3 separate regions of the Homo sapiens genome follow, and all the other regions are reported to be linked to region 3. Evidence: microRNA targets listed by miRTarBase, many of them from high-throughput screens and not tested one by one. Region 3 holds a microRNA gene; each other region holds the end of a gene's coding sequence.

Region 1 (5,075 bases), not on the chromosome of region 3:
TGGTACTTTCCTGGCCCTGCTGCCCCTGCCCGTCCGTCTTTTATGATTTTTATTTACTCGTATTGGTTTTTTTAAATTTCTATTTTTTGCAGAACTGAGCCTTTTTCTGCCCTGCCTTTCTCCTGTTTGTCTTTCCTTTGTGGTTGATATTGTGTTGTCTTCTCCAAAGTATTTGTCATTAGAAACTTACAGCAAGCGTATACTTTTTAGCATGTCAGTATTTTTATTATGTTGCCCTCCTTGTCTTTGATAACTGCCTGTGGACGCTGTGTAAACTTTCTGGTAAAAATCCTTTTTTTTCCCCCTGTAGTCTCTCCATTTCAAGGACTAAAACAGTCTTGCGTTAAGTAAAAACCTGTGACCAGAGCTGAAGGAAGACTCTAGGACTGAAAACTGCAACAGAAATTAGCACAATTTGAAAACAAAACAAAATTGCAAAAGCCTTAGTTGCTTTTTCCACCTAAGAAGTTGATCAATGGAGAAAATGTCCACTGGAGTTTGAATAATGAACTTTGAGTTTGGGTGCAAGCAAATGACTCAGAGAAGGGTCCAGCTCTCAAGCTGAATGACAAACATGCTGTTGTAAATTTAGTCTCAGGTGTAAATACCCAAGCCCTCTGGTACCCAGGGAGCTGGCTGGTCTGTGGTGCATGTGTGTCCCTGTGATGGCAATCATTGTAGTTGCTGGCCTTCAGAAGAATTGAGGATCTGATGGAGGTTTTTTATGTATTTATTTTCTGTTCACCTTGTGACCCTGTGTCAAAATTTATAAAGATACAAAAGGCATTACTGAAATGGTACTTTCTGTAATTTGATACTATTTGGCTTAATCATCTTCACTTGACTATTTGTAATACTGTTGTAATGTTAACTCTGTTAAGTACCCAAGCTGCTTGTCTTCCACCAAAGAGTGCTTTATTAACAAGAATCTGTGAAAATCACATTTAAACACTGTTGCATGTTGTAAGACCAGGTGGTACCTTAGTAACCTAAAACTTGCAAGAGAATATTAATGGTAGCTTTAGAAGACTCAGGAGGAGAAACTGACTTCAGAGTTGGAAGATGTTGCAAGTCGTTCCTTTTTCTGTCCTTCAGGGACTGAAGAACTGGGAGGCTGCCCATTGTTTGGTTGCCAGTCATACAAATTAAAATCATATTTCCTTCCATGAATGGAAGAAACACACTATTGGTTTTTCCCCTTGGAAACAGCAATCCCAAATAATGTCGGCTTACAAAAAAAAAAAGTTACCACTTTTTTAGAGTCCTTCCCTGTAACATTGGATTTTTTTTTTCCCTTATGAGATCCACCTAAGGCCATTGACGTGGCCTGCGATCTCAGTGACAATGATCTGCTTCTGGATCTCACTGTTGCCTTTGGTTAGGGAACACAACTAGTAACTCTGCAGAGTGCCTTCTCCCGCAGCCCTACTGGAACACAGCAGAGTCTGTGCCATGAAGCAGTTACAGAAACAGAATTGATGTGCTGCTAAAAAAAAAAAAAAAAATGGGGCCCGAAATAAAAGAATATATAGTACTCACCTCAGTTCCTTCCATAAGAAGTGGGTGGTTTAATGATTGTTAAGCCATTTTTGCCTGTGCCGGGAGCATGGAGGGCTGAGATGTCGACAGGCAGTGGGAAACAAATGCCCTCCTAAGCCACAAGGCGTGCGCCAGATTAGTAGGCAACTCCATTTTAAGAAGCTGCCTTTTTCACAAAACTGGAAGAAATAAAAGCGGTTGGAATAAACAAGTTAAAAGTCTTTAATGCAAAAAGTAATTGAAAGGCAGTGCCTCCATTTTGGTGTACTTTCTTGGAAGAAAGTATAAAATTGACCGGCATCATGAGAGACGGAAGATGCCGTGTTCTCAGCCAAACAAGCAACTCTTTCCCCGCCAGGCACTGTCGGGTGGGGTCAGGCCAGCTTTTAAACACTGGGGACTGGATCACAGAAAAACAGTGGTTTTCTGTCCCTGGAAATGAATAGGCACAAAGACCCACTTGGCTGTGGGCAGACTACTCTTCAATAAGATTTGGGTGGGAGGAGGAACATTCCTTTTGCTATTTTGAGCTGAGACAATATAAATATTCAAACTGTGCCATGCATAAAGCATTGAATTCTCAGGGCACCTCTTCTTCCCCTTACCCCTTTTAAGGCCATCCCCTCCATTAATAATAATCCAGGTAGTTGTGAAAATCGTGCTTCTATCTGATCCCTTCTTAGTTTGGCTTTTCATCCCATCAGAACAAGTAAACGTAGGCGCCACAGCTCTTGTGAGTACTGTCTCCCTCACGGTGAATGAGCCTCCTGGTGTTTCGTCCAAGAAAAGAAAGGGTGTCACTGGAACCACAGCCCTTTTTCATTTTATAAACTGCCTCTTCATGTTGCCTGCTCAAGTTTCCACCTAGAATTGCTATCACTGTGGCTCTTTCTAAAAATCTTTCTATTTAACTGGTTCACTGAAATTAGTCATAGAAAACTTGTGATTTGGTGAAGAGGCATTCCTTGTAATAACCAAATGACTTGGGATGGTGTGCATAGCAAGGGCAGTGTTACACTTATGAGGACTGTCTCTAGCATCCAGGAAGTCTCTGGGTCTGAGGGATGGAAAGTTCTTCCTGCTATGAATGAGAGTGGACTCTTCCCCTCACCCCCAACTGAAACCACAAACAACCAGAATCTTCTGGAATTCTGACTTAGAGTCGTTGTTATAGAAGACCTTGTTGCTATGGAACATGAAACTGTGTGTCAGATGGAGAGATCCCCTTAACCTAAGAGCCTTAAATAGCCCTGAAAGTACACTGGGACGGTTTGCGATGGAATTAAAATTGGAAGTGAATATTTTTAGGTGCTCTTGAAGCTTTCTGGGGACTCAAAATTATCAAAAGTCAGGGACAGTCCGGAGGAAGAGCGTCTGCAAAACTGGGTTCCTAGAAGTATAGACGGACTTAGCTTTTTGTAGAATTTGGTGAGGAGCAGCGCCTCGTGAGAGCAGAATGGCCTGGCGTGGCCAGTGCTTCCCGGCAGCACGCAGCTCTGCGGCCTCCAGAATTCCCCTGTTCTGAGCTTGATGCCCCTAGCCTGTCCCCTACCTACTTCCTCCCCTCCTCTCTAGCCCTCTCACAGGGGTGATTGCTACCTCTCTGTTTTCTTGGGCCTAGGCAAGTTTTAGAGGAGTTCCCAAGCATTGTTATGAGGCCAGTGTGCTCGCTGGGCTGGGCGGGATGGCCTGGGCTTGTGTGTGGCCTGAGGGCTCTCCTGGGGCCTTCTCTTTTCCCAGTCACCTTTGGAGCCACAGAAGCAGTGCACTCATTGGATGTCTGTTCTTAACACAGCTTCTCTTTCTACATTAAAAAAAATCATTATTGCATTTTGGAAAGCAGTGCTCATCAAAAGCAACTTTTAAAACCTATTTTATTGTTCCTTTAAATGTTCTCTCCCGCTGAAACTGCCCTGGAGAGGCTATCTGCTGCTCTTCCATTTACCCACATCAGGTTATTCTCCATGTCACTCAGTGGAGATGACTCCAGATGTGTTTAAAGACTGGACAATTCACCTATACTGTGTAGGAAATTACCTCCTTAATTACCTGGTAGAATTGTCAGCAGACATGTTCATCCGATGATAGTACTGCAGTTTTCTATTAATAATTTGCAGACTTTTATCTAACCTGCACTCATGTACAGATTATTAAAAGTTTTAAAATGTAACTGATCAGTATTGATCAATCATTGTCTTGATTTTTTTTTACAGCGTATATTTCTAATCATATTTTTTAAAGCCAAGAGAACTGGTTGAATGAATGTTTATTTTCCTGAAGGTATTTTTAAGATAAAGCTTCCTAATGGCGTGTAAACTTTGCATATGTATGTAGTTTGATACATATTGTCACATTTGAAAATCTTGTGGGTTGTAACTGGTTTTATACAAAATATCGAATAGTGGAAATTGTATAATTACAATCATGTAATTAAAAGTATTAACCCAACAGCCTTTTTGTTTATTGTGTTACTTACCAAGCATTTTGAATTCTGGTAGGCAGTGGGTTAGATCATAAAGCAGAGGTAACCCGGAATCTGTGTAAGTTTTCTAGGACGGCCATAATGGAATACCCCAGACTGGGTGGCTGACACAGAAGTTCATTTCCTCACAGTTCTGGAGGCTGCAAGTCCACGACCAAGCTGTGGGCGGGCTTGGTTTCTCCCAAGGCCTCTCTCCTGGGCTTGGAGGCGCTGCCTCCTCGCAGGGCCTCTCTTTGGTGCCTGCGTGGCCCTGGTGCCTCTCTTCCCCTCTACTCCCCTCTCAAGAGGACACCAGTCAGATTGGATTGGGGCTTACCCCGATGGCCTCATTTTAACTTCACCACGTCGTTAAAGTCCCCATGTCCACATAGAGCCACATCTGAAGGGGCTGGGGTTAGGGCTTTAGTGTTTGAATCTGGAAGTTAGTCCAGCCCCCTTCTGTAGGGTAAGGTGGTGAGTGACAGGGGGCTCCTGCTGCCAGGCCATTCCTCACACCCCAGCACCAGCTCACACAACACAAAGTTTTGACTTTCTGCAGACCTCTAAAGATAAGACTTAAGTCAGTCAGGCTCTTGGGATCCTGCAGGGCATTTTGCCTGCCAAGGTCGGGCGGCACCGGCCCCAGCACCCTCCCCAGCTTGTGGTCCAACCCCGGACGCCAGACCCCTGCTTTCTACCTGCCTTGCCTCTGGTGCCGGGCAGGACCCCAAGGGCTCAGTGTCCACACCTCACACACAGCTTACTGCTGAGACTCAAGACCCTGTGTTCTGTCGAGTTCTACCCAGTTCCCCCAAGGAGCTGTGCTTGGATTCACACTGGGTTACAAGTGTCCAAAGTAAAAACCAGAGACCTGCCTTCTCGCCCCTCTCCCGACTCCACACCACACATGACCCCCCAGAGTGTTCATTTGCAGACCCTGGCTCTGTGGGAGCTGTGGCCTCTCCCTGCCCCTCCATGGCTTCCCCTGAGGCCACTAGAGCTCTCCCCTGACCCACTAGAGCTCAGGCAGCTGGCGCCACCACGCAGCTCCGTGAAGTCCCTGAGTGCTGCAAAG
Region 2 (5,075 bases), not on the chromosome of region 3:
CCCAGCTAATTTTTTGTATCTTTAGTACAGATCGAGCCAGGATGGTCTCGATCTCCTGACCTCGTGATCCACCTGCCTTGGCTTCTCAAAGTGCTGGGATTACAGGTGTAAGCCACCACGCCTGGACTTTTTTTTTTTTTTTTTGAGACGGATCCTGCCTCAGCCTCTTGAGTAGCTGGGATTACAGATGTCCACTACCGTATCGGCTAATTTTTGTATTTTTAGTAGAGACAAGGTTTTGCCATGTTGGGCAGGCTGGTTTTGAACTCCCAACCTCAGGTGATCTGCCCACTTCAGCCTCCCAAATTGCTGGGATTACAGGCGTGAGCCACCGTGCCCAGCCACAATGTGGTGTTTATTATACAGTTGGATTGACTTAAATACATTCATGGCATTTAAAATGAAATTTTAATTATTACGATTCCTAAAAAACAAATGAACTAAAACTCAATTACTTCCTTCAGAACAAAAACGTTACACTCAAATTTCTCCCATCAGATCTCATTTGGTTCATTAAATCTCCCTGGTGAAGAGGATGGATTCCAGAAACCCAGTGCCAACAATGAAATATCACCCTCATACTTGGCCCACGAGAACATCATATACCATAGTAGAGATTTCGCCCTCCTCTTGGCCCCCGGGGGAGACTACTGTTGGCTCCTAGCACTATCAGCTGGCTAGGAATGTGTATGCAACACTTCTGAAGCCTTGGAAACATAGTACAGAATGTACCCATTTTAGGATGATTCAACTTTATGATTTTTCAACTTTTTGATGGTATAAAAGCGATACATAATCAGTACAAACCATATACATACCACCATTTTTCAGTACAGTACTCATTACATGTGTCAACACTTTATTATAAGATAGGTTTTATGTTAGATGATAACACCAGCATCTTGCTCAATAAATTGAAGCCAGCTTTTTCAACAGAGAACATTATTAGAATGAAACTAGATGCAAGAACAGGAAAGTAAACACCTGTGTCATGTTCAACAAGACTGAACTACGGAGCAAAGAATCACACAGTGTTGCAAGATCTTGAACTGACTAGATGATAGGATTACAAAAACCACACAGCTATTGCTGGAAAATTATGTCATGCAGAGAACAGACTGGCACGATTACATATGTGGGTTTGTCCTACACAAACCAGACCTTTAAGTGAAACAAGTCTATCCAACCATCTTCCCATAAAACCTAGTTTCTATGGAAAACAATCAATTAAGCTAAACCCCCACATTTTAGATGTATATTCATTTATAGAAGCCCAAAAGGACAGTGGGGTTACAAATAATTTTATATTTTAGATGCTTTCATAATTTAAAAAGTTAACATTACAATTTGTGTTACTAAAATGCAAAAACAGGATTGGCATGCTGCCTCATGCCTGTAATCTGAACATTTTGGGAGGCTGAGGCAGGAGGACTTGAGCCCAGGAGTTCGAGCCCAGCCTAGGGAACACAGGGAAAACCCATCTCTACGCAAGACGTAAAAACTGGCCAGCTGTGATGGCATGCCCCTGTAGTCTGAGCTACTTGGGAGGCTGAGGTGGGAAGATCGCCTTGAGCCCAGGAAATTGAGGCTGGAGCTGTGATGACACTAGTGCACTCCAGCCTGGGGAACAGAGTAAGACCATCTCCCCCACTGCCCGCTACTCTCGCTACCAAAAAAACAGCAAAAGCAGGCTAGACTCCTCTAATTTCAGGGAGAGCTAGATGTTTTTTTTTTTCTCTTTTTTTCAGTTTTGCTCTGCCGCCCAGGCTGGAGTGCAGTGGTGTGATCTCAGCTCACTGCAACCTCCACCTCCCGGGTTAAAGTGATTCTCCTGCTTCAGCCTCCCAAGTAGCTGGGATTACAGGTGCCTCCCACCATGCCTGGCTAGTTTTTGTATTTTTAGTAGAGATGGGGTTTCACCATGTAAGCCAGGCTGGTCTCAGAACTCCTGGCCTCAAGTGATCTGCCAGCCTTGGCTGGGATTACAGATGTGAGCCACCACGCCCAGCCTCATTTTTTTTGAGACTGGGCCAGGGAAGGGGGCAGTGGGCCAGGGACTGTCTCTCTCTGTTGCCCAGGCTGGAGTGCAGGATCGTGATCATGGCCCATTGCAGCCTCTACCTCCCGGGTTCAAGCAATCCTCCCACCTCAGCCTCCCAAGAAGCTGGGACCACAGGCATGTTCCACCACACCCAGCTTATTTTTGGTAAAGATGGGGTTTTGCCATATTGCCCAGGATGGTCTCGAACTCCTGGGTTCAAGCAATCCACCCAGCGTTCCAAAGTGCTGGGATTATGTTGCGAAAAGCTGAGTGTTGGGAGAAGCTGAGGCAGGGCTTGCATTCTGACATAATGTAAAAGAGTCTTGGAATATGTCCAGGGTCAAGGGTCTAAAACCCCTTGTGGTCTTTGGAACACCAAGCTCTGTGCTAAAGGGTGGAAGGCTGCCCTGACGCACCATAATCTAAGCCCAGGGCATAAAATCCCTCGTGGCTTGGATAAAATCCAGGGCCTGTGGCTCTGGAATGTCTAGACTTGCTGGCTCCTTGCTCTCCCAGGATCGACTGTAACTTGAGTTAAAAGAACCTGCTCTCCATCATCTCAAGTAGCAGAGCAAATGCTAAACCATCACAGCTGTAAATCATGTGCTTAATGCAAGGTGCCCTTCTGACCTTCACATTCTCACCATCTGTTTCTTTGTTGGATTACCAATAAATAGTGTGGGCTCCCAGAGCTCACGGCCTTCACAGCCTCCACCATCCCGATGGTCTGCTGGTCCTACTTCTCTCTCAAACTGTCTTTTTCTCAATCCTTTGACTCCACTGGACTTTGTCACCCCCACGACCTGGTGTTGGGTCTGGTCACCCTAACAGGGTTACAGATGTAAGCCACTGCATCTAGCACCCACATTATCTTTGAAAGCAGTTGAGTCTTTGGCATGCAAGAACATTCCTGCACTGCAGTGAATCTGTGAACTTACTACTACGGATGCATACCAATTCACAACCAGTGAAAGGCCACGTACCTAAAAAGGTGTTTACTGCCTCAGAATATACTTGACAATTGTGGAAACGTTAGCAATCTACTCTTCCAAGATTCCTTGGAGTTGTCATACATAAGCAAATCCATATGGACTGAGGAATAAGGAGGAAGAGGATAAGGCTTATGGAAGATAAATCATGTTCTTGCCTCCGGTAGGTAGGATTCAATTTAGTCCCTGTATAAATGACTCCATGTTAATTTCCCTTCCCATATGGATGCTAATCCAGTGACTCATAAGCTTAGACCAACAAGCTCAGCATGAAAGCCAAGAAACTTCTGTTTCTCCTAAATTCCGTAGCCGACTCTCATACAGCGAGACCCTCACTGGGCCACTCTGGGAATGACTACAAATGAATATGATGGAGTCCATGTGAATAATGGTTGAGCAGGTGAGGAAAAGGGTCACATCACAGACCTCAAGTCAGACCCACTGATTTGGAAAGCCAACAGTATACTCAGAAGCAAAGCAATGTTATACTTTGTTTTTTCTGAGACAGAATCTCACACTGTCACCCAGGCTACAGCACAGTGGGGTGATCGTGGCTCACTGGAGCCTCAACCTCTTGCGCTCACTTGATCCTTCCACCTCAGCCTCGTGAGGAGCTGGGAGCACAGATGCATGCCACCATGCCACACTAATTTTTTTTTTTCTTTTGTAGAGATGGGGTTTTACCAAGTTGCCCAGGCTAGTCTCAAACTCCTGGCCTCAAGCAATCCTCTCACCTTGGCTACCTAAAGTGCTGAACAACCACAGAGAAGCACTCTATTTTTCCCTCTATTACATTAGCAAATACACAGAAGGACAATTTAGAAACAGATTATACCCAGGAACATATGTCAGGATTACTTATGGAGGTTTTATTATTTTTATTTATTTTTGAGACTGAGTCTTGCTCTGTCATCAGGCTGGAGTGCAGTGGCTCACTGCAACCTCCGCCTCCCAGGTTCAAGCAATTCTCCTGCCTCAGCCTCCCTAGTAGCTGGGATTACAGGTGTCCACCACCATGCCCAATTAATTTTTGTATTTTTGGTACAGACAGGGTTTCACCATGTTGGCCAGGATGGTCTCGATCTCGTTGACCTTGTGATCCGCCTGCCTCGGCCTCCCAAAGTGCTGGGATTACAGGCGTGAGCCACCGCCCCTGGACTACTTATGGAGGTTTTAAAAAATCTTTTAAGTCCAGGCCTGACGTTTAGAGAAGGTTACAAAGGCGGCCAGGATCTGAGTATTTCCAAAAAGCTCTGGAGGCAGCATTGAGGTTTCCTTCCAGTTGAATCACTGACTTTAGGTCGACTGGGGTACTTTGGGTTTTTTGGGCCATTTTTTGGGGGTGTGGGAAGCTTTTCTCACAGATTTACTAGGAGTGGTGAAAAACTTGGCCTCTGGCTTTTTTGGAGTCTGTCTCGCATCTTTTTTCCCCAGCGAAGGACTTTTTTCCTTCACTGCCTCTTCTTTGATTTTTGGCTTCTTCTCTGGGCTTTTCCCTGGGGTCTCAGACTCTGCAGCTTTTGGGGTCTCAGATGCTGGCAAAGCCTTTCTTTTCTTCCCACGAGGTGTGCTGGGATTAGGACTCTTTGCTGGAGACTTCTTTCCTGTGGCATGTTTTTGAATCTAAGAAAAAAAAAAGTAAGTTTAATATAGAAAAAGCCACAAAACCTGACACTCTAACTCCAGGAGTTACTGTTTTTATTTGTATTTATTTATTTTTCAGACTGAGTTTCGCTCTTGCTGCCCATGCTAGAGTGCAATGGCACAATCTCAGTTCACTGCAACCTCTGCCTCCCGAGTAGCTGGTATTATAGGTGTGTGCCACCACGCCCGGCTCATTTTTTGTATTTTTAGTAGAAACAGGGTTTCACCATGTTAGCCAGGCTGGTCTCGAACTCCTGACCTCAGGTGATCCACCTGCCTCGGCCTCCCAAAGTGCTAGGATTACAGGCGTGAGCCACTGTGCCCGGCCAAGTTACTGTTTTTCAGCGCATGGCCAAGTTACTGTTTTTATTAGTTAACCCCCAAAAGGTACACCTCAGTAT
Region 3 (5,075 bases):
AATCTTGCCAATAAGACAAAAAGAAAGGCTCTAGGTAAGATACAGGCAAGGCAGAATATTAAATTGTAAACCAAATTTGTCTTTAAATCTTTTTGCAGCATATGTATTTTATACCACATTTCCCATTAATTTACAATAAAAATGACGTACGATAGTGGCACACTTTCATGGGTGCTTTAAAAAGTTTCTATTGCTTTTAGGTCGGGTGCGGTGGCTCACGCCTGTAACCTCAGCACTTTGGGAGGCTGAGGTGGGCGGATCACCTGAGTTCAGGAGTTTGATACCAGCCTGACCAACATGGTGAAACCCTGTCTCTACTAAAAATACAAAATTAGCCAGGCATGGTGGCACATGCCTGTAATCCCAACTACTAGGAAGGCTAAGGCAGGAGAATCACTTGAACCCAGGAGGCAGAGGTTGCAGTGAGCCGAGATCACACCATTGCACTCCAGCCTGGGCAACAAGAGCAAAACTCCATCTCAAATAAATAAATAGATAAGTAAATAAAAAGTTTATACTGCCTTTGTAAATGACTAGCGTAGTCTCCTGAGTGAGAAGAGAGAAAAAAACCTGGTGAGACATCCTGGAGATGGCATTTCTTTTCCCTCCTCCACGTTTGCCTCACCCTAGCCAGTCCTGAGTCAATCTTTTTATTTACTTCTCTCATGGAATCCAGCCCCAAACCCAGCTCATACCAAGTCCTCAATAAATGCTTGGTAAGTAGATGAGTAAATGAATAAAATTTCTATAGATTCAACTGTAGGATGATGAACTTCATTTATTTATTTATTTGTTTATTTATTATTTAACCATGAGAATGAAAACCAGGAAGGATGCTGAATTTCTGTCATCTAAGTATAAATATGTGATATATATTACCAAAACTCAACTTGTCTACCTCCATAGTCAGCATGCATTGTTGGTAAAGTGCCAAGTATACATATTTTAATAGGGCATTACAGGCCAGACTGTCTCTGTTGTGACTACTTAACTCCATCATTATAGTGTGAAAAAAGCCACTGACAATACAGAAACAAATGAGTGTCTATAAACCTGTATTTGTGGACACTGAAATATGAATTTCATAGAATATTTTAATAAAATTTTCTTAGGTGTTTTTTCAACCTTTAAAAAGTGAACACCTTTTTTAGCTTGTAGACCATACACAACTAGCTGGTAGGCCAGATTTGACCCATGCGCCATAGTTTTCTGACCACATGCATCAAATGTTTTAGTACATCTACAATGCTTTAAAATAGTACCTGCTTGATGAACTTTATGAAGTTAATATTTATGAAAAAATATATAAAAGGCAAATACCACAAAGATTTCAGAACTGCTAAATTAATGCAGGGTTATGCTTTGCCATTGGTGAGTACTGTCTTTTAAAGAGTTTTATTTTTTACTGATGTATACTGCACAAAAGCAAAGTAGGGCTGGGCACAGTGGCTCACGTCTGTAATCCCAGCACTTTTGGAGGCCGAGGCAGGCAGATCACTTGAGGTCAAGAGTTTGAGACCAGCCTGGCCAACATGGTGAAACCCCATCTCTACTAAAAATGTAAAAATTAGCCGGGCATGGTGGTGAGCACCTGTAATCCCAGCTACTCAGGAGGCCGAGGCAGGAGAATCACTTGAACCCAGGAGGCAGAGGTTGCAGTGAGCTGAGATCAGCCCCCTGCCCTCCAGCCTGGGTGACAGAATGAGACTCTGTCTCAAAAAAAAAGAAAAAAAAGCAAGTAGAAATACCTATTATTCTTTATAAAGTTCTATTTTCAACCCCCAGTCAGCATAATTCAAGCCAGGAATTTAAAGACAGAATGTGCATGCCAATTTCTTTAAGCATTGAAAATCAACATTCTTCAAACAGCTTAAAGCAACATTTGCAGGGCTAAAAATTGGGTTTGATAGGATTTTTAAAGAGATATTACTCAAGACCTAAATATAATCTTTTGTAGAGATTAGAGAAGAATAATACAGAAGCCTCAGATTCAAATAACATTTACTGAGGTCCTTTTCTTTTCCTTTTTTTTTTTTTTGAGACAGAGTCTCACTCTGTCACCCAGGCTGGAGTGCAGTGGTGCAATCTCAGCTTACTGCAACTTCTGCCTCCTGGGTTCAGGCGATTCTCCTGCCTCAGCCTCCCGAGTAGCTGGGATTACAGGCATGCGCCACCATGCCTGGCTAATTTTTCGTATTTTTAGTAGAGACAGGGTTTCACCATGTTGGCCAGGCTGGTCTTGAACTCCTGACCTACTGAGGTCCTGTTCTGTTCTAGTGCTCTTATATTCAAAAAGCAACAGGCAATGGCGATGGCAGAGAGGAGGAAAAATGATGTAGGAAATGAAGTGACCTATCCAAGCCCCAAAGCTAAGGAAGCGGAGGAAGTATCCAGAGTCAGACTTCTGCCTCCTGGTCCAGTTCTCGTTTTAGGACATTATGATCCCTTGCCTTCTCTAAGGCTTAATGAGCCAGATCTGCTGAGAGAAAGAATCATACCATAGCCTGTGAAGTCTGCATCTGTTGAATGGTATGATGAAGCTGGTGCTAATGGTATCTCTTGTGAACTGAAGGAGACTTTTGTTGGATATTTTTGCTGTTTCATCTGGCTGACAGCCTACAAAAGAAAGGAAAATTAGATGAATATCAAAAAGGAGAAAGGTAACAAGAAAATACTTTAAAACTGGTGTATTGTTACCAAAACAATGGTGCAGTCCAATGATGTCTTTTGAGAATATAAGGTTGGAGGGTGGCAAGAAGTTAGGATGATTTATGCCTCGTTCCTCATTCTTCCCTATTTAACTTTACAACTAAAATGCTTTGATGAAGGGCAGATCAAGGAAGGGAGGAAAGATAAAAGCTGAAGATACTCTGTCAGTGTGATCTGTACATGAAGCTGGGGGTGGGAGGCAAAACAAAAATTATCTTGCAATTTCTACTCATTCTGATGAAATCAGCAAGAAGCCCCTTTATCTATGGACTTTGAAGTGACTTATCTGTGTTGTGCACATTGAAAAACAATCTACGCTGGGGATGTTTAGAGCATCAACACTGTCCATTTCTTCTGGACACACTAGAGTCAAAGATGCATTTGGTAGGTTAATTAAGCAAAATGAGGGGCAGACAAAGAAAACCAACACCTACTGAAAGCCTACTAAATGCCAGCTACATCAGTGACATTTAATTCACATAAAGGAAGCATAGCTCCTTTATTGAGTCCCTACTATGTTCCAGGCACCTACGATACCCAGTGCCTGGAACATAGTAGGGACTCAATAAAGTGCTTGATGAATGAATGAACAAGAAAGAAAGAACAAAGAAAAGCAAAACTGAAGACATGAGTAACTCAGGGTAGAAAGTGAACTTGCAATTCAGTGAAGGTACAGGGACCTCTACTGTGTGAGTTTGGGAAAAATTAACTTGTAATTCTGGATTTTTGCTGACAGTACCTCCAATGAATATTAATATTAAAAAACTAAGGGGCCAGGCATGGTGGCTCACGCCTGTAAACCCAGCACTTTGGGAGGCTGAGATGGGCAGATCACCTGACATCAGGAGTTCGAGACCAGCCTGGCTAACATGGTGAAACCCCATCTCTACTGAAAAAAATACAAAAATTAGCCAGGCGTGGTGATGCATGCCTGTAATCCCAGCTACTTGGGAGGCTGAGGCAGGAGAATTGCTTGAACCCAGGAGGCAGAGGTTGCAGTGAGCTGAGACCGTGCCATTGCACTCCAGCCTGGGCAACAAGAATGAAACTCCGTCTCCAAAAATAAATACATACATACATACATACACTAAGAAAAACCAAAAGGACTCCTTGCTTATTTAACAGGCAGTTAAGAAATATAGGTAGTAACCTGACCTGCCTTCTGGATCTGCAGTTGGCCAGGGAACCCATCCCCAGCTGGAAGAGTCTGGTAGTGAAGCACCAGGTTGCCCCTGGAGTCTAGAAATAGGACCAAGGTAACTGCTCCAGAACTGTAACACCTCAAGATTCTGTCAGTGGAAAGCTGTGCCTCAATACAGGGCATTGTGCAGTGTGCAGTAACAACAAAACAATACCATCCATTGTGCATATGCACTGTGCTTTCTAGTTTTCAAAACACTTTTACATCCATAAATTCATTCAATCACATGAACAACCCCGACAGTTAAATATTACTTTTTTTCTTTTTGCAGAAAACCAAGCATAAATGTCAAGTGACATATTTGAAATCACACTGCTAATTAGAGAAAGAGGTAGAACCGGAAGTCAATAGTTGAAGAATGCTACAAGCTTAAAGTGTTTATCAAACAGCTGATAGGCAATGATTCTATGGAGTTTTTTTGTTTTTTCCTGCAGTTTTTCTATCACCATCTTCTTTTTTTTTTTTTTTTGGACAGGGTCTCACTCTGTCACCTAGGCTGTAATAGTTGTGTGATCTCGGCTCACTGAAGCCTTGATGTCCTGGGCTCAGGTGATTCTCCCACCTCAGCCTCCTGAATACCTGGGATTACAGGCGCACACCACCACGCCTGGCTAATTTTTTGTATTTTTAGTAAAGATGGAGTTTTGCTATGTTGCCCAGGCTGGTCTCGAACTCCTGGACTCAAGCAATCCACCCACCTCAGCATCTCAGAGTGCTGGGATTACAGGCATGAGCCACTGTGCCCCGCCACTATCAGCATCATTTAATATTGACTAAAAAGAGACTTTTTCAATTACATATTTATCAGTGATTTTTAAAGGAAGAAAGTAGAAAAGGACAAATAAGGGGTTACTATAAGAAAACAACATTGAGAGGACTTAGATATCCAATTATTCTAAGGACCACATTTACTAGCCTCATTGAAGGTAGGTGTGCCAACAGGCTAAGTCCTGGTCAATGGGATGTAAACAGAAGTGAATGTACAATTTTTAGGTCATTCTCCTAAGGAGAAAGATCCTGTCTTTCCCTTCTCACTGCTTGGAATACAGATGTGTTGGTAATAACTGAAGCAGCCCTCTTAAACTAAAGAATGGATGCCACCATTTGAGGGTGGTAGAGTAATCAAATAAGAATGGTATAGTAATCAGATAAGAGGTGCTTGGGT

Evidence for each region. The annotated mature microRNA hsa-miR-3116 reads UGCCUGGAACAUAGUAGGGACU and lies in region 3 at 3,251-3,272, shown strand. An mRNA with a match to its seed (bases 2 to 7 or 8) in the 3' UTR can be bound and repressed. Matches are read on the target gene's strand: a 7mer-m8 pairs with bases 2 to 8, a 7mer-A1 pairs with bases 2 to 7 and ends in A, and an 8mer does both.
Region 1: miRTarBase lists CDC14B as a target of hsa-miR-3116. Seed matches in the 3' UTR shown: 7mer-A1 at 1,894-1,900.
Region 2: the mRNA of RSL1D1 is a reported target of hsa-miR-3116. Seed matches in the 3' UTR shown: 7mer-A1 at 1,878-1,884.

Annotation. Positions count from the first base shown.
Region 1 is chr9:96,499,025-96,504,099 of GRCh38, reverse strand. CDC14B (cell division cycle 14B) reads left to right here. Exons shown (of 14, transcript NM_033331.4): 14 at 311-3,987. The coding sequence ends at 347. Among named protein-coding and RNA genes, the nearest start is that of HABP4, 51 kb to the right of the region's middle.
Region 2 is chr16:11,833,461-11,838,535 of GRCh38, forward strand. RSL1D1 (ribosomal L1 domain containing 1) reads right to left here. Exons shown (of 9, transcript NM_015659.3): 9 at 390-4,653. The coding sequence ends at 4,327. Among named protein-coding and RNA genes, the nearest start is that of BCAR4, 7.2 kb to the left of the region's middle. RefSeq lists a silencer at 4,977-5,075.
Region 3 is chr1:62,076,991-62,082,065 of GRCh38, reverse strand. MIR3116-2 (microRNA 3116-2) reads left to right here and starts at 3,210; the gene lies at 3,210-3,277. It overlaps PATJ (PATJ crumbs cell polarity complex component), which reads right to left. Exons shown (of 44, transcript NM_001350145.3): 32 at 2,499-2,616. It overlaps MIR3116-1 (microRNA 3116-1), which reads right to left and starts at 3,280; the gene lies at 3,207-3,280.